Linked DNA regions of Homo sapiens. The protein of the gene in region 2 purifies or fractionates together with the protein of the main gene of each other region. This does not show direct contact. Each region holds a gene or a part of one and is shown on either strand. Other genes may lie near its edges.

Region 1 (6,157 bases), on a different chromosome or scaffold from region 2:
CTAAGAGGAGATATATAATAAGTAATTGAATATTTAGATTTTGCTTCCTATCAAGTCTGGGCTGACGATGAAGTACAATGCTATCACCTTTCCCCAACATGGCTCACTTAGTTATATTAACAAACTAATATGTTCTATAGATACAGAGGCAAATAAACAGGAACAATTAGTTGTATACCCATCTCCCTTTCATTGCTAAGGACTGGATAAATATCTTAAAGACAAAATAGTATAGATGCCCAAAATACAGACTTCCTTTTGGTTTTCTTTAGCTAAGTGACTCTCAAGCTTTACTGTGCACAAGCATTACTGAACCAGACTACACACAATACTTCGTCGGCAATCGATTTTTTCTTAAAGGATTTTACTGCATGACTTATATCTCCATAAAAACTGACTTAAAATCCAGCCCCCTAAATAAGATGCAACTCCACTCTAATCTGGGTATAAATAGTTTTGGCCATGAATCTGGATGAGAATCCTCCCTGAAGAATTTGGTTAAAATATGTTCCAGATCAATTGCAGCAGTTCTACTTGGAGTCCATGAGTGGACTTAACAGAATCTGCCAGTCCTCTGAAACTGTGTAGTATTCTGTGTATATGTGCTATATCTTTTTCTATGGGAAGAGGGTCCACAGCTTTCATCAGGTTTTCAAAAGTACCCATATTCCTCAAAAAACGGACCCACTGGTCCAGAAAAAAAATGGTGCTTATGATTTTTATGAGATAATGATTATCAAGCAATGTTACACAGGACATGAGTTCCTCTAAAGTTTAATACTTGAGTGCTGTGGCCGGGCGCAGTGTCTCACACCTGTAATCTCAGCACTTCGGGAGCCCGAGGCAGGTGGATCACGAGGTCAACAGATCAAGACCATCCTGGCGCCAACATGGTAAAACCTCATCTCTACTAAAAATACAAAAATTAGCTGGGCGTGGTGGCATGTGCCTGTAGTTTCAGCTACTCAGGAGGCTGAGGCAGGAGAATCGCTTGAACCTGGGAGGTGGAGGTTGTTGTGAGATCATGCCACTGTACTCCAGCCTGGCGACAGCACAAGACTCTGTCTCAAAAAAAAAAAAAAAAAAAAAATTGGCTGTGTCAAATATTTCTAGTATTTATTTTTTTAAGACAATAGAAAAAGAATTGCTTTTAGAATGGTGTTTTTTTTTTTTTTTTGAGACAGAGTCTTGCTCTGTAGCCAGGCTGGAGTGCACTGGCGTGATGTCAGCTCACTGCAACCTCTGCCTCCCAGGTTCAAGAGATTCTCCTGCCTCAGCCTCCCGAGTAGCTGGGACTACAGGCCCACGCCACCATGCCCAGCTAAATTTTGTATTTTTAGTAGAGATGGGCTTTCACCACATTGGCCAGGATTGTCTGGATCTCTTGACCTTGTGATCCGCCCGCTTTGGCCTCCCAAAGTGCTGGGATTACAGGTGTGAGCCAGCCGCTTTTTTTTTTTTTTTTTAATCTTACCTATAGACTTGCATGATTCAAGATAAAATGCTTTTTAAAGGAGAAAAGGTACAGAAAATAATTTTAAATTCTGCCGGAAAGACTGGTATAATGTTCTAAAGTCACTCACTGGCCATAACCTATCTTTGCTCCTTAATTTCTCATTAATCCTAACATCACCCTTAGACACAGCCTGGTATCTCCAACGACACTCCTCTTAAATAAGCCTTGCCTAGACCTGCTTCTCAGCATCAACTGTTCTTTCTACCTACAATGCCCTCCTCTCCCATCCAAAGGATCTCTCTTTTAAGACCTAAATTGAGTTCTTCCAGTAAACTTTCCACAACAGTCACAGCCCATTGTTTTCTCTCCTCTCAACTGCCAATTTACTATCTGTACATCTCATTATTTGGTAGTGATCATATACTTGCCAACTAAACCTGAAGAACCCTGTCTTAGCCACTTCCCAACCCAATGCCCAGAAGAGTGCTTTCTAGAGTAGGTTCTCAAATATTAGGCAGTATAGCAGACATGAAGAATATACCTTAAGTCTTTCTCTTTCTATGTCTGGTTTGAGGAGCTTTCTCAGGAACCGGTTTTCCGGTGACTTTCTTTTTTCCCGTCCAGTCTTTGGACAAAGTATGGAGTTACAAACTTGAACTGTACTTTTATACTTAAACAAGGGCACATTCATTAAACTCTCTAAATTCTGAAATGGCCCAAAGTTTTCTCTGTGCTCTACGATATTGATGGACCTTCTTCCACGAAGCAATCGGAAAGCTTCAAGTTCTTTAGTAGATGCTGTATTCAACACATGCAAGATGGAAGCCTGCTGTTCTGAAGAGAAGAGCTTGTCAAGTGCATTTTCGGGCTCCTTTGCATTTTCATCACAAAAAGTAACATTGGGAGTAATTTTCTTAGGTGTAGTGGATTTTTTCCGACAGCAGAAATTATGTAAGGCCCAGTACAGGGATGACCTCGACGGGGTCAGAAAGCATCTCCACCTCTCTAAAAGGAAAATTTAGCAAAATATAAGTTGGATGTCCTACTTCCTTTGGGGTTAGTTGCAAGCTTGACTAGATCCTTTGCAAAGTCACAAATACTTTCCTGGAATTTAAGAACTAATAGAGGACAATATTAAATTGTCTTGGAGAATCATCTTTTTTTTTTTTTTTTGAGACGGAGTCTTGCTCTGTTGCCCAGGCTGGAGTGCAGTGGCCGATCTCGGCTCACTGCAAGCTCCGCCTCCCAGGTTCACGCCATTCTCCTGCCTCAGCCTCCCAGGTGGCTGGGACTACAGGCGCCTGCCACCACGCCCGGCTAATTTTTTGTATATTTAGTAGAGACGGGGTTTCACAGTGTTAGCCAGGATGGTCTCCATCTCCTGACCTCGTGATCCGCCCACCTCAGCCTCCCAAAGTGCTGGGATTACAGGCGTGAGCCACTGTGCCCGGCCCGAGAATCATCTTTAAAAGAGGATTAGTTTTTAAACTATATTATATAGAGTTTTAAATAGAGCTTTTGTTGTTTTCAAGTCACGAGAGATGTCTCCCGATATTTATGGATCAGTCCGAAGTTTTACTACCTAGAAAATTGTATTTTATACCCATCAGGAAGCAAGTAGTTGAAATAATTATTCCAACTGCTTAAAGTTTCTGATATTTTTAATTTAGAGGAATCTTTTTGTAACTAATATTTCCTGTTAAGGTTTGTCTTAGGCCGGGCGCGGTGACTCACGCTTATAATCCCAGCACTTTGGGAGGCCGAGGTGGGCGGATCACCTGAGGTCGGGAGTTCGAGACCAGCCTGACCAACATGGAGAAACCCTGTCTCTACTAATAATACAAAATTAGCCGGGCGTGGTGGCACATGCCTGTAATCCCAGCTACTCGGGAGGCTGAGGCAGGAGAATCGCTTGAGCCCGGAAGGCGGAGGTTGCGGTGAGCCGAGATCGCACCATTGCACTCCAGTCTCGGCAACAAGAGCGAAACTCCGTCTCAAAAAAAAAAAAAAAAGGGTTTTGTCTTCACTTCCATTTTCACATTTTAGTATCTCATCTGGTGGAACTAAATAAAATTAAATTTTGTACGTTTATAAGAAATGTTTCAGCTAAGTGATAGATTTAAGGGCAGTTTTACTTTCTTCCGTACACTTTTCAAGACTTCTACATGACGTTTTTGCAAGTATGAGAAACACCATACAATGCATAACTTTGTAAAACCAGTGGGAAGTCACTCTAACATCGCAGCCACAGGAAAGTAATGTGGCCAGAGGTAAGCAAGCGGCTGTGAGAATGTGAACCATCCGCCCACTCTGAGGAGCCACCCGTGGACCCTGAGGCCGGGGAAGCACAAATGTTCCGAAAACTGCCCCGTCAGCTAGGCTGGGGCCCCAAGAGAGGGGCCTGAACAAGGGACATGAGGAAGGAAACACTCTAGGACATGAGGGACATGAGGAAGGAAACACTCCAGGTTCCTCCAGAATACCTCCAGCCGTATTCCATTAGCCTCTAGGGTCAGAGGCTAATGACAGACGGGAAATCACCCCAGTGTTCCAAGCACCCTACCTCCCGCCGTATTCCATTAGCCTCTAGGGTCAGAGGCTAATGACAGACGGGAAATCACCCCAGTGTTCCAAGCACCCTACCTCCCGCCGTGAAGAGGACAGACCCGCTCATCTCCAAGTTGAATCAGTAGGTCCAGTCTTCCTCCATTGACTTCCGGTTCCTGCGTGCTGCGCCCAAAAGCGCTCGGCCTGCACTCGGCGGAAAGGTTGTTGTCCAAGCGGCGTTCCGGGGCAAGGCCCGAGGTGTGTCCCGCTGAGCAGTGGGTCGTCCGCGTCTGGGCTGCGGGCTTCCAGGCGGGCGCCTGCCGAGGCCCTGTCCCCGGATCCCGAGTCCCTGGCTGGCCCGCAGTCTTCTTCCACTGCACCGGGGAAACGTTCTTGCCCCTACCGACTCCTGAGAGCCGCTGGGCCGAATCTCCAGGAAGGCGATTCCGAGGCCAGTTTTAGTCTGTAGTGGGTAAAGTGCCTCCTTCGTGGAGACTCCCTGGGTTTCTCCTAGACACTTAGATTGAGGAGCTCCTGTTGGGGCCCAGCCTGTGGCGCCGGGAGCGGGATCAGGTAGGGGCAGCGTAGACAAGGTCCTCAAATAACCTTTTCACCAGGTAGACTGGAATAACGGGGAGAGATGCGAAGTGTTTGAGGAGCTCAGCGGGGAAACAGGGCAGGCAAGGGATTAGGTAAAGGCGAGGGAGGAGGAGATTGCGTTGGCGCTGGAGCGGTATTCCTCTTAGAAGGGATAAAGGGAGATGAATGTAGCGCCGAATTTAGTTGGTCCTTGAATAATGGGTGGAGCAGTTGAATACTCCACCAGATAGGAAGCCTGAAGTCCCCGAGGTTTATGATTTGCAGTCAGACTGGAGAGTGTTCCTAGAAAATTGGCCATATACTGTATAGCGAATGTGAGGCTGGATTGCAGGTGAAGAGCCTGGGAGCAATGAGAAGTCGCGAAGAGAGTGTATCTTCCCAGGTGAGAGGCAAGCGTAAGGAATTTTTTTTTTAACAGTCTTGCTCTGTCGCCCAGGTTGGAGTGCAGTGGTGCGATCTGGACTCACTGCAAACTCCGCCTCCCGATTTCAAGTGATTCTCGTGCCTCAGCCTCCCGAGTAGCTGAGATTACAGGCGAGCGCCACTACGCCCGGCTAATTTTTGTATTTTTAGTAGAGACAGGTGTCACCATGTTGGCCAGGCTGGTCTCGAACTCCTGACCTCAGGTGATCCGCCCGACTCGGCCTCCCAAAGTGCTGGGATTACAGGCGTGGGCCACTGCGCCTGGCCAACCGTAAGGAATTGAACCTAGGAGATGTAAGGAGAGTGGAAAGAAAAGAATTATTTCTGGAAGATGGGGAGCCAGTTTTGTGAAAAACGGGGAATTCAGGAGGGAGGGAAAGGTGATGAGTTTGCGTTTTTATGAGGCAGCAATGGGTTGATTGTTTGTGTCTGGAAGGCAGTGGGGATGTAGGGGAATCATAAGTATTAATAAAATGTGCTGGTCGGGAGCAGTGGCTCCCAAAGTGTAATTCCAGCACTTTGGGAGGCCGAGACGGGCGGATCGCTTGAGCTCTTGAGTTCCAGACCACCCTGGGCAACATGGCGAAACCCCGTCTCTACGAAAAAATTAGCCGGGTGTGGTGGAGCACGCCTGTTATCCCAGCTACTCAGGAGGCTGAGGTGGGAGAATCACCTGAGCCCGGGAGGTAGAGGTTGCAGTGAGTGGAGATCGTGTCACCACACTCCAGCGTGGGGGACAGAGCCAGACCTTGTCTCAAAAAAAGAAAAAAAATTGCTCATAGGAAGTCTAGAAACCTTGGCAGTTTCTGGGGAACTTAGGAATCTAACAAGAAATAACATCAACTTTTTTCTGCAAAATCCTCCAAATCAGGAGGAAATAATTTCCTCAACTGTAGGGCTTATTCAGTTTACTGAGATGTTATGATTGAATTGCATCCCTCAAAACAGATTTGTTGAAGTCCTAACCCCCAGTACCTTATTATTTCCAAATAAGGTCATTGTAGATGTAACTAATTAAAATGAGGACAGGAAGGCCGGCACGGTGGCTCACGCCTGTAATCCCAGCGCTTTGGGAGGCCGAGGAGGGGGGATTACGAGGTCAGGAGATCGAGACCATCCTGGATAACACGG
Region 2 (5,571 bases):
ATTTCCTTTCATACTTCATATTTTTTGGACTTAGATATTGCTTTTTAAATTTCTGTTATTTATATACTGAACAACTCTCCAATTTAATGTGTACAAGACACTGGTTTTTTAATATATTCACAGAGTTGTACAACCATCACCCCAATCAACTATATAACAATTCCATCACCCCAAAAAGAAACTGTACCCATTAGCCGTCACTCCCCATTTCCTCCTAATACCTGCCACCCGCCCCAGGCAACACTAATCTATTTACTGTCTCTATAGATTTGCCTATTATGGACATTTTGTATATACAGAATAATCCAATATGTGAACTTTTGACTGGCTTCTCTGACTTAGCAAAATATTTTCAAGATTCATCCATATATGGCTTGTATCAGCACTTCATTCCTTTTTATTGCCAAATATCCCATTCTACATTTTATTTCTCCATTTGTTGGTTGATAGACATTTGGGTTGTTGCTACTTTTTGGCTATTACGAATTGTGCTGCTATAATATTCATGCACAAGATTTTGTGTGGACGTATTTTCAATTCTCTTGGGTATATACCTAAGAGTAGAACTGCTGGTGACTCTATGTTTAACCTTTTGAGGTATCGCTAGATAATTTTCCAAAGCAGCCCATCATTTTACAATCCCATCAGCAGTCAAGTGGGTTGCAATTTCTCCACATTCTCATCAACACTTGTTGTTATCTGCCTTTTTCATGATAGCCACCGGGTGTGAAGTGCTATCTCATTGCGGTTTTCAGTCGCATTTCCCTGACAGCGAATGGTGCTGAACATCCCTTTTGTGTGCTTATTGAAGATTTGTATATCTTTTTGGAGAAATGTCTTCTCAGATCCTTTGCCCATTTTTTAACTGGGTTACTTGTTTTTTTGAGTTGTAACAGTTCTTTATATATTCTAAATGTCTATATCTTATTGAATATGATTTACAAACATTTACTACCATTTCATGGCTTGTCTTGGCATATTCTTGATGGTATTCTTTGTATCACAGAAGTTTTTAAATTTGATGAAGTCCAATTTTATCCAAGAAACCATTGCTTAACTCAAAAATTTACTCCTATATTTTCTTCTAAAAGTTTTACAGATTTAGCTCATGTGTTTAGTTCTGTGATCCATTTTGAGTTAATTTTTGTACACGGTGTGAAGAAAGGGTCGAAATTCACTCTTCTGCATGACAATATCCAGCATCATGTGTTGAGAAGATTATTCTTTTGCCCTTTTAACTGCGTTGGGACTCTTGTCCAAAATCAATAGTTTGTTTCTGAACTCTTAATCCTATTCTATCAATCTGTAAATGTCTATTCTTATGCCAGTACCAGATTGTCTTGATTATTATAGTTTTATGTTGCTCAATCGTTTACACTGCTTTTTTTTTTTTGAGACGGAGTTTCACTCTTGTTGCCCAGGCGGAGTGCAATGGCAAGATCTCGGCTCACTGCAACCTCTTCCTCCCAGGCCAGGTTCAAGCAATTCTCCCACCTCAGCCTCCTGAGTAGCTGGGATTAAAGGCATGTGCCACCACGCCCAGGTAATTTAGTATTTTAGTAGAGACAGGGTTTCACCATGTTGGCCAGGCTCGTCTCGAACTCCTGACCTCAGGTGATCTGTCCGCCTCAGCCTCCCAAAGTGCTGGGATTACAGGTATGAGACACTGCGTCCGGCGTTACATTACGTTTTAAAATAATTTTTATATAAATTCCACATGCCAATAGAAGATTTTTAAAAGATAAGATTTTTATCACTGTCTATCCAATTATATATTAGAAATTTTACATTCTCCAAGAAAAGGAGCATTTCCTCTTCAACATCCTGTTATGAAGACAGAGACTGAAGAAAACATTCCTCTCACTCATTGGTTTCACCTATGTCCCACATTCTCTTTTTTTTGAGACAGTCTCACTCTCACCCAGGCTGGAGTGCAGTGGCCCAATCTCGGCTCACTACAACCCTCACCCCTTTAGGTTCAAGCGATTCTTGTGCCTCAGCCTCCCAAATAGCTGGGATTACAGGCACATGCCACCACTCCTGGCTAATTTTTTTGTTGTTTGTTTGTTTGTTTGTTTGTTTAGCAGAGATGGGGTTTCACCATGTTGGCCAGTGGGTCTCAAACTCCTGACCTCAGGTGATCCACCCGCCTCAGCCTCCCAAAGTGCTAGGATTATAGGTGTGAGCCACCATGCCTGTCCCCACATTCTTGAACTACAGCTATTCACAATTGTATCTGTGGGCAAACGACCCCAAGGTTCAATAATTATTCATACTTTTCACTTCACATTATCTTAGAAAGTAAAGTGTTTGAAAAAAATTTATTTGTATACCAGTGCTTACTATATGAATGACATTAAAAATGGTTGTGCAACACTTTATATCTTGCAAAGCACTTAAACAAACATTACCTTATTTGAATTTCATAAACATCATGAGAAGTTGATGAGCAAGTATTATTTCCCCCCCAAGTAATTATGGCCTTAAGAATGCATGTGCGATTGCTAAGGGATACAGGCATAACTCTAAAATTACTGCTTCATAAAATAGTTCCAGTATATTCTTGTAAGATTTTATTTTACAGCAATAAATACAGAAATGCTAAAAACCACTGCTGAGCTTCTGTGGAAAGAATAACATACTGCTAGCAACTAATCAGCCTCTGGATTTCATATCACTAGAGATTATAATTATAATTATAATTCTAGCCAATGTCCCTGCTTGTTGATAGTTGCTCCCATTACCATCACATCATGCCTATCACAAAGGGCATTCTGTCCCTTAAGTACTTTTGAGTGAGGCCACAAAGTTTCTTTTTGATCTAGAGATGGGATTTTTTTCAAAAGATACTGATAACAAACTATAGGGGGGAGAAAAGCAAAAATAAATCAACTACTACATCCCACACACACCAGAAAAAAAGATTAAAATATGGCAAATGTAAGAACATAAAATATTTAACATAATAAGTCTAGCCAATTCAATTTCAGTTTAATTCAAATTCTGCACACCTATTTGGTACCAAGCACACAATGAATAAGACAGTATGGTGCTTATGTAAGTATAGACATACAGATCAATGGAACAGAATTGAGAATCTAGATATGAGCCTTCATATTTATGATCAAATTTACTTTTTAAAAAGGTGTCAAGGTATTTTATTAAGGATATAAGAGTGTTGTGCTGGGAGAAGTGTCTATGCATATGCCACAATTCACAAAAATTAACTCAAAATATGGATCACAGACTCTTAAAGGAAGAACTAAAACTATAAAGCCTCTAGAATAAATCATCATGACTTGTGTTAGGCAAAGATTTATTTAATGAACACCAAAAGTACAATCCATAAAGTCACAAACTAGACTTGATAACAATTTAAAACTTTTGTGCTTCAAAAGACACAATTAAAAAACCAAAAAGACATCCCCAAAATATGTACATCTATTTTGTATCAATAAAAAATTAAAAAGAAAAGGCAAGGCATAGCCTGGAAGAAAGTATTTGCAAATCATGTATCTGATAGAGGACTTGTTTTCAGACATATAAAGAAATCATACAAATCAATAAGAAAATACACAAAAATGAGCAAAAAATTTGAATAGATATTTCCAGAAGATATAAGAATGGCTGATAAGCATATGAAAAGATGTCTGAAATCACCAGTTATTAGGAACATGCAAATTAAAACTACAATCAAATACATTACATACCCACTAGAATGGCTATAATCAAAACAAGAGATAATATCAAGCGTTGGCAAGGATGCGTAGGAGCTAGAACTCTCATATATTGCTGGTGGGAGTGAAAAATGGTAGTCATTTTGAAAAACAATTTGACAGACTCTTTAAAAGTTAGACATAAATTCACCACACAACCCAGCAATTTCACTCCTAAGTAACCACCTACGAGAAATTAAAACATATCCACACAAAGACATACGTCAAATGTGCATAGCAAGCCTATAACCTGGTGAATAAACAACATTTATACAATGAAATACTATTCAGTGATACGGCTGAATTAACTACTGCCACATGCTACAACACGGATATACCTCAAAAACATTATGCTAAGTGAAAGAAGCCAAACACAAAGACTATACATTCTATGAGTCCATTATAGGTTACAAGAAACTGCAAATCTCTAGAGACAGAAAGTAGATCAGTGGTTGCCAGGGGCTGAAGGTGGGAGTAGGGATTGACTACAAATGGCTATGAGGGAATTTTCTGAGATTATGGAAATGTTCCAAAACTAGACTGTGTTTATGGCTGCACAACCATGAGTGAATTATATACTTGCAATGGGTGAATTTTATAGTATTTAAATTATAACTCAATACAGCTGTTTAAAAAAAAAACACACTTGATCCCACACCATTCTACTTAAAAACTAGAATATTACCTACAGACCTTATGGCCCATCTATATACTCTTCCCTTAGTCTCATCTTCGTGCCTCGACAAGGTAACCATTACCTCAACTTAGTGTTGATCATTTCCATGTTTTTGTTGTTTTACAGATGCATCACTAAATAATATAATTTCATTTTGTTTGGTTTCTTAACTTTTTATTATGAAAATTTTCATCCATATACTCTACATTTAGATTTAAGGATTTTCTACATTTAGCCCTCCTTTTTGGGCCTAGGTATTTTATAATAAAATGCAGTTATTATGATAGTTCATCTCGAAATTCTTTCACATGCAGCTATAAAAAATTGTCCAATTTAACCATATTATCATCATCATACCTAACAAAAATCATATTTGTTAACATCACCTTATTCCTACTTTATTATTACTATTATTATTTTGTAGACAGTTTTGCTCTAGGCACGTGCCATCACACCCGGCTAATTTTTCTATCTTTAGTAGAGACGGGGTTTCACCACATTGGCCAGGCTGGTCTCTGACCTCCTGGCCTCAAGTGATCCACCCGCCTCGGCCTCCCAAAGTGCTGGGATTACAGGCGTGAGCCACTGTGCCTGGTCTATACCTACTTTACATTAATTCAAGATGGATTTAAGACTTAAATGTAAGACCTAAAACTACAAGAATCCTAGAATAAAACCTAGGAAATACCAATGGGGACACTGGCCTTGGGAAAGAGTTTATGACCAACTCCTCAAAAGCAATTGCAGGTCAGGCACGGTGGCTCACGCCTGTAGTCCCAGCACTTTGGGAGGTCAAGGTAGGTGGATCACTTGAGCCCCGGAGTTCAAGACCAGCCTGGACAACATGGCGAAACCCTGTCTCTACCAAAAATACAAAAAACTAGCTGGGAGTGGTGGCATGTGCCTGTAGTCCCAGCTGCTGTGGTGGGAGGATTGCTTGAGCCTGGGAGGCAGAGGTTGCAGTAAGCTGAGACCGTGCCATTGCACTCCAGCCTGGGTGACAGAGCAAGACCCTGTCTCAAAAAAAAAAAAAGCCAATTGTAGCAAAAACAAAAACTGACAAACGGGACCTAGTTAAACTGAAAAGCTTCGGCACAGCAAAAGAAACTATCAATAAACAGAAACCCCCTTTTTTTTTTTTTTTTTTTTTTTTTTGAGACAGAGGCTGGCTCTGTTGCC
Region 3 (5,571 bases), on a different chromosome or scaffold from region 2:
GTCCTCTGTATATTTGCCTAATATTTAGAAATTTACTCTCAGTAAAGTTGACTTATTGAAAATTGATAAAAAAATCTCTAAAAAAATTTTTTTAGAGAGACAGGGTCTTGCTCTGTCACCTAGACTGACTGGAGTGCAGTGGTGGGATCACAGCTCACTACAACCTCAAACTCCTGGATTCAAGTGATTCGCCCACCTCAGCCTCTTGAGTAGCTACTATAGGCACCTGCCACCCACACCTGGCTAATTTTTAAATTTTTTGTAGAGATGGGGTCTTGCTATGTTGCCCAGTCTGGTGTTGAAGTCCTGCCCTCAAGTGATCCTCCTGCCTTGGCCTCCCAAAGTGCTGGGATTTCAGATGTGAGCCCCCAACCCACCCTGATGAAAACTTGTTAAACCTTTTATTCCCTGTCTAGCTTTTAAACTCTTCTTAAGTCCTGGAAAACTTAAAAAAGGATTTTCTTTCATAGTCCAGAGTTATATTGGCACTCACCCATGCATAATTGTTTTGTCAAACCTTTTAGGGGAGAGGTGTTTTTAAAGAATTATGAAAATACTGACAAGGGACCAGCCCAATTATACCGGAGAGGTTTAGAGACATCCACAGAGGATGAGTCAAGAGTGTTGGATTGGGGGTTGGAAGACAAGATAGGTGGAGAGTCGAGCACTAAATGCAAATAGATGTGATGTAAATTATGATTTGTGCCTGAAAAATAGCTGAGAAATTCATTGTTGCTGTTGCATAGATTGTATAGGGACTGGGGTAGTTACAGATGGTGAGGGTGAATAGTTAGGCGGGGACCAAATTGTGAACTTGGTGGTGAATTTGGACTTGGACATATAAGGAGTACTCATGGAAGTTGTTAAGCAGGGAAGTGATATGGTCACATTTGTATTTAGGTGCATATTCCTGAAAACCATGTGGAGAGTGATTTCTAAGGAAACTGATGGTAAAGTTGTGTGGAGCTGGTTTATTAGACCAAGTGACCATTGTGTCATTGAACGTATAGAGAAGGGGGGCCAGATTCCAGAGATACTTGAGGTGGGATTGATAGGAATTTTGGGGAGGGAAATGTGGGAGAGGAAAAAATTAGGATAGATCTCAGATTTTTGGCTAGGATTTTTGTGGGAGGTGTGTTATGGTGGTGTTATAATTGAATATAGGAAGAGAAATTGGTTGAGGGCAAAGGTGTGGAGAAGGGAGGTAGAATAATATTTATGACTACAGTTGAGTGTTTGTTGTATGTCTAGTAATGTTCTATGTGCTTTTGATACATTGTTATTTTTATTATATTCCTGTGAGTCAGGTATTAGTATGTTTATTTTACAGAAAAAGAAACTGAGGCTCAGAGAAGGTCAGTGACTTTCTTTGGTTCATTAAAAAAATGGGTAATAATACTTTTTATAAATTCTAGGTAAAAAGAGCCTCTAATACTTACTTTTGCCCAATGACCATGTTTATGTATTTTTATTCAAATTTTATTTTTTCAGCTGATTTAGAAGAATACAAATCATGGCTGAAAATAGTGTATTAACATCCACTACTGGGAGGACTAGCTTGGCAGACTCTTCCATTTTTGATTCTAAAGTTACTGAGATTTCCAAGGAAAACTTACTTATTGGATCTACTTCATATGTAGAAGGTAAACCTGTTACCTGCTTTAAAACAATCAATTTCTATTTTAATTCTAAACTTATTAGTGACTTTCTTAAGATTTAATTTTAATACCAACTGTAATGCTAGAGCACAGGTATTAAGTAAATATTTGTTTACAGAATCCTTTTACACTATGTCATTTTTCTGATTATTATTTGGGTTATTTGTATGCTTTGCAGCTTTGAAAAGGGAGGCATCTTAATTTGGATATTCCTTTTTCTGTATGTGAGGGCGGTCTAGCTACAGCATTATTAGCTAGAAGTTATACAGTCATGACTGGTTAGGTGAAAGCTACTTTTTCCTTTACCACTTTATAAATGGGTTTTTCCTAAAATTATATGCACTGTTGAGGAGGATGACTATGTAAGATAGCGCATTCTCTGGCTAGGAGGAATGCTGATGTTTGTATACCCTGCTACAATATGGTTTCTCTTTCTCTAAAGTGATATATAGCCAGATATTTTTGTAATAAGTTGGGAGTTGAGTCCTATTAAATTTAGAGAAAGTTATGATTCCCTCAAAGATGTAATACATACTAGATATAGCCAAAAGAGCGATAAGGACCTACTGATTGTGATGTTAATACATGATAAACATTGAAACATTTTACATTTTAACAGAAGAGATGCCTCAGATTGAAACAAGAGTGATATTGGTTCAAGAAGCTGGAAAACAAGAAGAACTTATAAAAGCCTTAAAGGTACGGAGTTTTAGGTTTTAGTTTTTTTTGTAATGCAATTTTTCTTCCATCAGTGTGTAAATAGTTTCATAGCTTTCTTAACCTCATACTTAAGTCTCTTTTCCACAGACTATTAAAATAATGGAAGTCCCTGTTATAAAGATAAAAGAAAGTTGTCCTGGAAAATCGGATGAAAAATTAATAAAAAGTGTTATTAATATGGTAGGTCAAAGTAACTCATTGCATGTGGCATGCTGCACTTCCCTTGATTGTATTATTCTACTTTCTGGTGATTGGAATTAGGCACAAGGTGTATTGTGTGCAATCTGAAGCTTAATGAATAGAAACTGTTTTATACTTTTTAACTCCTTAGCTTCTTTTTTCTCATTCATTTTATATTTAGTCTAAATTCTTGCTGTATTTCCAAAATTATAAATCACGGTAATTTATAATCAGGGAATTTGCCTCAGCATACGAAATAATCTAATTCTGGAATCCAGCTGTTTTAGTTTGCTAGGGCTGCCATAACAAAATACCACATAGTTAATTGCTTAAACAGTAGAAATTTCTTTTCTCACAGTTCTGGAGGCTAGAAGTCCAAGATTAAGGTGTGTGTAGGTTTAGTTTCTCTTGAGGCCTCTCGCCTTGGCTTGCAGTGTCCTTTTGCTGTCCTCACATGGCCTTTCTTCTGTGTGTCCTTGCATCCCTGGTGTTTCCTCTTATTGGGACACCAGGTTGGATTAGGGCCCACCCCTATTATCTCATTTAACCTTAATTACCTCTTTAAAGTCCTTATCGCCAAATATAGTCACACTCTAAGGACTTCATTCTTCATTCTAGGTTAGGGCTTCAACATGAATTTTGGGGGTACATAATTTAGCACATCACACTAGCCTTGCAAATAAAATTCAAATAATTTACTGACCCATTTTGAGTTAAAAAAAAATTTTTTTTTTAATTTAACACGAGTTACAAGAGTTATATAGGTACTTTAGTATCTTCATTATTTTTCGTGGATGTATAAAGTGTTTACTGTAAGTAACTTGCCTTTTTATATCCTACATTTGCCATGCTGCAACTGCTACATATTGCACATCTTTCTCATATATCTTACATATCTGCTAAAATGATTATGCTGATTTTCCTTTCTGTAAGTATTAAGTGCTATAGTATTATTTTCCTATTTTTCTGAAGATAGTTAATTTGTACAATAAGAACTTTATGTATGGTATCATTTTCTTGGTCAGTAGTGGATATCTTTCTAATGCATCTTGATATCAAAATGCATGTACTTAAAAACTTTAGCATTCTAATTTTATGGAACTTATGCATACTTGATGATTTATGACTAATAAGTAATAAGTCAGAATTATGCCTTTATAATACTGATCTTTAAAATTTAAGAACTTAATTTGAATGGAGATATGTATATGTAAAAATGTAAGTACGTAAAGAAATATGGTTGTTCATTAAGTGTAATGCTGATTATTGTGTGATAGAAACTTATTTTCTACAAATATAAACATGTTAAAGTTGATATTGAATTGATTGTTAAGCCTTATTTAGAGAGACAGATGGATTATTTGATATATAAATAATTTTTATTTCTGCTAACTATATGATGAAAAGGACATTAAAGTGGGCTTTGTAAAGATGGAGTCAGTGGAAGAATTTGAAGGTTTGGATTCTCCGGAATTTGAAAATGTATTTGTAGTCACGGACTTTCAGGATTCTGTCTTTAATGACCTCTACAAGGCTGATTGTAGAGTTATTGGACCACCAGTTGTATTAAATTGTTCACAAAAAGGAGAGGTAAGCATATACATTTATTATGACTTTTCAAGTTAAAATTTTTATTAATGAATTTTAATTAGCAAAAAATTTATTTGGAAAAATCTCATTGATTGCTGAGAGCAAAATATTTAGAATAGGAATAATAGTGGCTATTCTAATGTGGTCCTTTAATTCCTCCATTTTAAACTTAGTGGTGAAAAGCTAAGGCCTTTGAAAGTTAAATAATGATAACTGTACATATGCATATACACAGACAAATACATAGTCCTTTTTTTTTTTTTTTTTTTGAGACGGAGTCTTGCTCTGTGCCCAGGCTGGAGTGCAGTGGCACGATCTCAGCTCACTGCAAGCTCCGCCTCCTGGGTTCACGCCATTCTCCTGCCTCAGCCTCCCCAGTAGCTGGGACTACAGGTGCCCGCCACCATGCTCAGCTACTTTGTTGTATTTTTAGTAGAGATGGCGTTTCACCATGTTAGCCAGGATGGTCTTGATCTCCTGACCTCGTGATCCACCCGCTTCGGACTCTCAAAGTTCTGGGATTACAGGCGTGAGCCACTGCGCCTGGCGTATACACTATCAATACCACAATGTCTTAGAGAAGATTACTTGCTTAAACTTGGGTTCCAGAAATTCATACATATACATAAACTTTTATTTTTCTCAACACAGAACAGATACCACGGTTCCATTTTTATCAGTTACTGTATAACTTAAAATTCAAAAATTATTTTAGCTTTTTGTATTTATTTATTTATTTAATAAATAAATACACGATCTCTGCTCACTGCAACCTCTGCTTTCCCGGGTTCAAGCGATTCTACTGCCTCAGCCTCTCAAGTAGCTGGGACTGCAGGTGCATGCCACCACGCCTGGCTAAGTTTTTTCTATTTTTAGTAGAGACAGGATTTCACCATGTTGGCCAGGCTGGTCTCGAACTCTTGACCTCACGTTATCTTCCTGCCTCTGCCTCCCAAAGTGTTGAGATTACAGGCATGAGCCACCGTGCCCCGCTTCTTTTTGTTTTTAAACAGCATTTCAATATGAGTCGTATGAGAGTTAGTCCCTATTTGGTTTTGTTGCTGTCTTGGCATTCTTAAGCTTGCCTTGTTTACTTAAAATTGCTTAGGTCTTTGTACTTCTATTGTTACACATGTTAGTAATAATAAGCACATGTTAACCTTTAATTCTCTTACATTTTGATTTGGAGTGGTTGGTTTCAAAACCCAAATAAACTTTAAAAGGCCAAATTTTGAAAAATAATCTTATATAATGATGAAAATCAAATTTATTCTTTTATTATTTTTAAACCGTTCTCTTTTATACACACACACACACACAGACACACACACACACAACCGTTGGGTAAATTATTTACTGAATATCACCATTTATTAGCTTAAAGATTAGAATTATATTTGGTTTAAGTGTGTGTATTATATTT
Region 4 (5,770 bases), on a different chromosome or scaffold from region 2:
TATTTTTAGTAGAGATGGGGTTTCACATGTTGGCCAGGCTAGTCTTGAACTCCTGACCTCAAGTGATTCACCCACCTTGGCCTCCCAAAGTACTGGGATTACAGGCATGAGCCACCGCGCCTGGCCCCTCTCTGCCTTCTTTCCTTCCTTTCCTTATCACGTATTTAGGATTTTGCAATGTTAGGCGATTTCTTTCCCATATTTCCAACTGAATTAGAGTTAACCAAATGACAAAAAGTACTTTTGGTCTCAAATTCACCATCATGAAAATGGGCCGAAAAAATGAGGACACTTAGAATTTTACTATCAGATACTGCCAGATGATTAAAATGCCTGTGTTCCACACACACTGTGCCCTTCGGAGTCCTTCTTGTGCTGTTTCTGTTTCTCTGAGACTGCTGGTAGGAGACCAGGAGTGACTAGGTGTGACCAGGCATGACGGCATGAGCAGGCGTTAAAGATTGGAGCGCTGCCTCATTTCAAGTCTCTTAAAGAAGATGAAGGTAACAGCTGCCCAATGAGGACGGAACCGCATTTGTGAATGGAAGCATTCATAGCTGGGTTTCCTGTCCTTTGTATTTTCTTATAGATCTGAAGTTGTAACCTCCACATAATATGAACTACTTCAACAGTTTCTATTTCTATTCTGTGTCCCGGGGGTGTGGGGGTGGTACTAGAGTGAAAGTATTTGGCAGCGCATGCAACATAAAAAAAAAAAAAAATCCCTTCCTTTGGCCGGCGTTCAACTTTTATAACATGTTTTTATTTTTACTTTTTTGTAGGGGGAAGACAGGGTTGCTCTGTCGTCCAGGCTGCAACGCAGTGGCGGGATCATAGCTCCCCGCACCCTCAAACTCCTGGGATCAAGCGATCCTCCCACCTCAGCTATAATGTATTTTTAAATTTGGAAATGCGTTCTCCTCTTCCTCCACCCAGCATGTATATTTTTACTCTCCTCTTATTCCCTCCAACCTTCACCCAAGTCTGTTTCCTGGCAATTTGAGAAGTGAGAAATGCCTGCGTGGGGGAAAAAGTGGAGGCACATGTTGTGTTGTAATTTTAACGGGGAAACATTGCCCAATGACAAAACCAGGGACCGTCTTGTGATGTTGCTTTCTGCCCACGCTACCTTTTCCTCTTCTGAGCCCGCTCTCGTCCCACCGAAGGCTGCAAGGCTGCCTCGCATCCAGAGGCTGTGACCTGCTTTAAATCAACAAAGCATGATGATCTTAGTTTGAAGAGTTGGGAGGACAACCATATGGATTGAGCTGTCATCTTTTGGTCCGTTGTAAATATCAAAAGCAGGCAGCCCATTCAATTCTCATTCTGATCTTTACGGATCTCTCCCACTGATGAGTTAGAAACCCTTCTAAACTCATGTTTTCCTTCCTTCAGCCAGCAAGGATTTATTGAGCACTTACTATTAATATATGCCAGGCACCCTTCCAAGCATGGGGAGTATGGCAGCGAGGAGTCCAAGCCTCTGCGCTATCAATTTTGCAACAGCACTGAACTGTCACCCAGGGCATTGCAGAGGTTACGTGAGGACAGGGTGGGGCTGTCTGCAGGACCCCAGCTAACTCCGGGTTCAAATTACCTGTGATTTGCTCTAAGTCCCACTGAGCCAAGTACAGCACTAGATAACAATGAAAACACTTTCAGGTGGGAGGATGATCTTTTCCTTCTGCTCCTTAACTTTTGCCCCATATCAGGAGGAGCTTCTGAGAAATGTGAGCTTTTCTGCTCACCCCCACGATACATTGTCTAACCACAAACCCTGGTTCGGATTTCATCTGTCCATGACACTGCGTGGTGCATGAATATATTCTTACTCTAAAGAAAAAAAAAAACAGCCAAAGGATATTTCAAAAATTATTTTCACACATGATTATCATACAGTATTACAATGTATTATGTGCAAAATTCCATTTAAAAAATCATTTACAAAAGTACAACACAGTATGTGCTGAGGGTTCTAGTTCAACAAAAGCCAAGGCTAAAAAAGGTACAAGGTACAAAGCCAACCAAATGAGATGACTATGCATCTTTACACAGTACAATAACATGTTTTTGTAACTACCTGTGTTACGTGGATACAAGACCCTCATAGTTTGTGCACCTGCAAACTGGTTTTATTTAACATAAGTTTAATTTCACTGCAGGTTCTGATAATGTAGATTGATTTTTTTGTGCATTTTCAAATTCTTCTCCATTATATAGCATCTTATTTAACTCAACAAAAGCCACATTATACATTACTTGGTTTCTGGTCCCAATAATTTGATGCTGTTAAGTTTTAATTTGTATGGAAAAGGGAGAAAAGTGTTCTTCTTGATTTTTATTTTCCTCAAGGGGCTTTCAAAATTGTTTCTACAAGCAAATCACACATGGAATAGATTTTGCCAAACCTCACTGCATATTTACAGTATTTTAAGCATAGGTGGTTCCTTCTATCTCTTTTTCTACATCTTTTGAAGAGCCTGAACCAGCAGACTGCACTCCTCAGTCCTTTGTTAGAGTTCATATTTCTCTCTCTACCTCTCTCTACATTCATTTCTCTCCTTATTCTCAGCATCATTTGTTTAAAAAACAAAACAGCAAAACACCACTAAACGTGAACAAGAGAACAGTACATCCGATTTCCAAAGGCATTCTGTGGCCAGTGTCAGGAATACGTTGCTTTAAGAAATCCAGCAGTCTCTCCCCACAAAGTTGCCAAAACATCCAGTTACAGAAGAGAGACTTTAAAAATGCAATACTCTCAAATCCAGCAAGAGATTTATTTTTGAATATTAAATGTTAAAATCACATGCATAATTATAGAATATTTTAAAGTTACAAAAATATTTTAAAACCAATCCTGACAGTTTACCTGCAACTGCTATAAAAATTTCTATGAAATATATAAAAACATGAAGGCTCTTTGTAAAAAAAAAAAAAAAAAAAAAAAAAAGGAAAAAGAAAGGAAGGAAGGCAGGGATGAAGCCATCCACAGGAGTGAGAATCACCTGACGCACTGCATCGCAAGCATCTGCTGTTGAATTCAAAAGAACTTGTATCTTAAGTGTTTCTTCTGCACATATACATACCTGTAAGCCAACCTAGAACCTGACTGGGGGTAGGTAGCAAACAATCTCAGGACACTTGAACCATCAGATGCAATTCTCCATTGCCAAAAGAGAATCCTACTGTTTCACAAACCTCAGCTACCTTGCGTGGCTAAAGTTGCCCTTGGCCGAGTTGGCCTGTGGATGGCTTAGTCACTACACTGAGGGGTCCCCGAGGAGGTGACTGCTTTTCAAGCTCAAGCATGTAGAAGCGGGAAGGCAAGGCTTCCAGCTCCCCTTTGGATGCACCACTGGGAAGTCCCGCCTGTCTTCTAGGAGGTGGTGAGGTCTTCTTCCCCGTTCTGGAAAATGATGCCATAAGGATCGTTCTTGATGCGTTTGTAGACAAAGTGGAAGATGTGGGGCTGTGGTCGGCTGTGCAGCTCCGCCTTGATTTTTTGAGGGTAAGTGTCCTCTGCCAGCTGCTGCCATGTCTCGTCAACGAAGAGAAAGAGGCTGTACTCCTCAGGGTCCCCCACCTTGAACTTCTCAGCGCAGATCTGACACACATCCTCAGTGGTGATGTAAGGTCTCACAAGGAGGGTCTTTCCTGTGCAACCACTGTTGACCTCCTGAAATGCAACTCGGAGGTAATTCTGCAGGTGGAAGAGGAATGTTGAGACAGTCAGAAGAGAAAACTAGATAGTGAGCATGATGGGGGACCAGGGGAGGGGGTAACTGTAAGCCATTTCCAGGCCCTTTCCTGTCATAATGTCCGATGTCAGGCCACGAGGCTTCGAATGGCAAGGAAAGAGGCTGATCTGACTTTGGACAGTGGCGAAGATGACTACATGATTCATTGCAACTGTAAGAAGCAGGAAGTCCATGCAGCCCTGGTTCTGATCTTTCCATTTCCCTCATAAGGTCTGGTTAAGAAACCCCTGCTTAAGAGTGTGAACCACATCCAATGCTGGGTTTATTCCCAGCTTGAAAACTAAACCAAATAGCACAAGAGTATGAAGGAAGTCAGCAGAAAGAGATTTAAAATATCTAGACACAAAAGCACGTACTGTGCTCACTTTTTGTTTTCTTCTTTTCATTTTAAGAGATGAGATCTCACTATATTCTCCAGGCTGGACTCATACCGCTGGGCTCAAGTGATCCTTCTGCCTCAGCCTCCTGAGTAGCTAGGTGTACAGGTGCATGCCACTGTACCTGGCTTGTGTTCACTTTTGACAAACTTTTTAAATAAATCCTAAGCAAGGGCAATCATTTAGGTTGAATCACACACACACAAAATGCGCTGACTTTTGACTATTTTTTATCTCCCCCAAATGGTGATTTCATGTAGTTCAATCTAATACAAGGCTCCTAGTGGCTCTGGGCACAATGTGGAAAAAGTCAGAAGGAGAAGAATGTTGATTTTGCCAAATACTTTGCAGATGGAGCTGATTACATGCAAGGTGGTGCTGCAGGGAATTAAACAAAGACGTTTGCAGGCTCAGGTGCTGCAATCATGCCAGGTACATGCTATCATGAAACATGTAAACCTGTGGCCTTACAAGATACAAAGCCCAGACCAGGCATAAAGAATCTTAAACTCACATCAGGCTCTCCTAGATTTTGTGACCCCAGATAACTTTGCTTCTGTTTCCTTAACAGTGGAGTTATCAGATGAAATCTAGAACAGCCAGTTAAATTTGAGTTTCAGCTAGAAAACAAATAGATTTTTTTCTGCTAAATCTGGCAACCCTGCTCAGCAGTGAAGGGAAGGAGGGCTCTCTGCCCAGGTGCCTGCAAGGTCACCACGAGGGTTTCCTGGGATAACAGAAGGGAAAGCTCTTGGGAAGGACAGTGAGCTCTGCACATGTAAGATATGTTTCATATCTGCTTCCAGTGGGGACTTTTGCTAGCCCAGTGACTTTGCAGGAGAGGTGAGCTAGTGGGAGGTGCCCAGATTGACAGTGACACTCTTTGAACCTTTTTTTTTAAGAGACAGGGTCTACATAATCCCTGTTTGACTAGTGCAGAAACTGAGGCACAGAGAGGCTACGTAACTTGCCCAAAGCCACACAGCTAGGACGTGGCAGATGCAGCCCCACCGCCTTTACCACCAAGACGTACTACCTCTTCCCATGTGAGAAGACCTCTGTGTCTGTGGCCTCTGATTTAGGGGTTCCAGATGGAGCTTTGGGTCTGAGGTTTTGCTTTGACCCCTGAGCCGAGTGCTGAACATTTCCTTCTTCGGTTACACTCTGAGAAGGCATGCACCTCCAAGGTGAGCAGGGTCAATGAGGGCAGGAGGGGACGGCTGCAGAAGAAGGCAGCTCTATGGTGTCTGAGGGTCTCCAGGTGAAGAGGTGGAGGAGGGTGTGTTGGCAGGTGGGGAAAGGAACAATGAACTTTTTTCACTTCCTCTGTTCTGCCCTAGGCAGCCCCTCCCTGGATGGCTATATGATGGCACCCCAGGGGTCTGCAGGCACTGAGTGGCACAGGGACCTTCTTAGTGCAACAGGGTGGGGAGAGTGCAGTGCGTGTATTCTCACTCTTTAGGTTTATGCGCTCCAGAAGGAATTTCTGAGCATACTGCAATCATGGAGAAGAATGAGCTGATCTTGGCTTTCAAAGATGGGCTTGCCTTTTTGTTTGTTTGTTTTTGATACAGGGTCTCATTCTGCTGCCCAGGCTGGAGTGCAGTGGTGTGATCATGGCTCACTGTAGCC

Evidence for each region.
Region 1: the proteins of GKAP1 (region 2) and TEFM purify together in Homo sapiens (affinity purification with mass spectrometry, with the first as the bait; one large-scale study listed by BioGRID). This does not show direct contact.
Region 3: the proteins of GKAP1 (region 2) and ECT2 purify together in Homo sapiens (affinity purification with mass spectrometry, with the first as the bait; one large-scale study listed by BioGRID). This does not show direct contact.
Region 4: the proteins of GKAP1 (region 2) and RIN2 purify together in Homo sapiens (affinity purification with mass spectrometry; one large-scale study listed by BioGRID and IntAct). This does not show direct contact.

What each region holds. Positions count from the first base shown.
Region 1 is NC_000017.11:30,902,069-30,908,225, forward strand, and holds the start of TEFM (transcription elongation factor, mitochondrial), read right to left. Parts: upstream 4,171-6,157; 5' UTR 4,131-4,170; coding exon 4,100-4,130; intron 2,462-4,099; coding exon 1,998-2,461; intron 1-1,997. UniProt on the Homo sapiens protein: Transcription elongation factor which increases mitochondrial RNA polymerase processivity. Regulates transcription of the mitochondrial genome, including genes important for the oxidative phosphorylation machinery.
Region 2 is NC_000009.12:83,769,182-83,774,752, forward strand, and holds part of GKAP1 (G kinase-anchoring protein 1), read right to left. Parts: intron 1-5,571. UniProt on the Homo sapiens protein: Regulates insulin-dependent IRS1 tyrosine phosphorylation in adipocytes by modulating the availability of IRS1 to IR tyrosine kinase. Its association with IRS1 is required for insulin-induced translocation of SLC2A4 to the cell membrane.
Region 3 is NC_000003.12:172,753,018-172,758,588, forward strand, and holds part of ECT2 (protein ECT2), read left to right. Parts: intron 1-1,491; 5' UTR 1,492-1,513; coding exon 1,514-1,643; intron 1,644-2,277; coding exon 2,278-2,357; intron 2,358-2,465; coding exon 2,466-2,558; intron 2,559-3,965; coding exon 3,966-4,148; intron 4,149-5,571. UniProt on the Homo sapiens protein: Guanine nucleotide exchange factor (GEF) that catalyzes the exchange of GDP for GTP. Promotes guanine nucleotide exchange on the Rho family members of small GTPases, like RHOA, RHOC, RAC1 and CDC42.
Region 4 is NC_000020.11:19,998,546-20,004,315, reverse strand, and holds the end of RIN2 (ras and Rab interactor 2), read right to left. Parts: intron 3,704-5,770; coding exon 3,380-3,703; 3' UTR 1,860-3,379; downstream 1-1,859. UniProt on the Homo sapiens protein: Ras effector protein. May function as an upstream activator and/or downstream effector for RAB5B in endocytic pathway. May function as a guanine nucleotide exchange (GEF) of RAB5B, required for activating the RAB5 proteins by exchanging bound GDP for free GTP.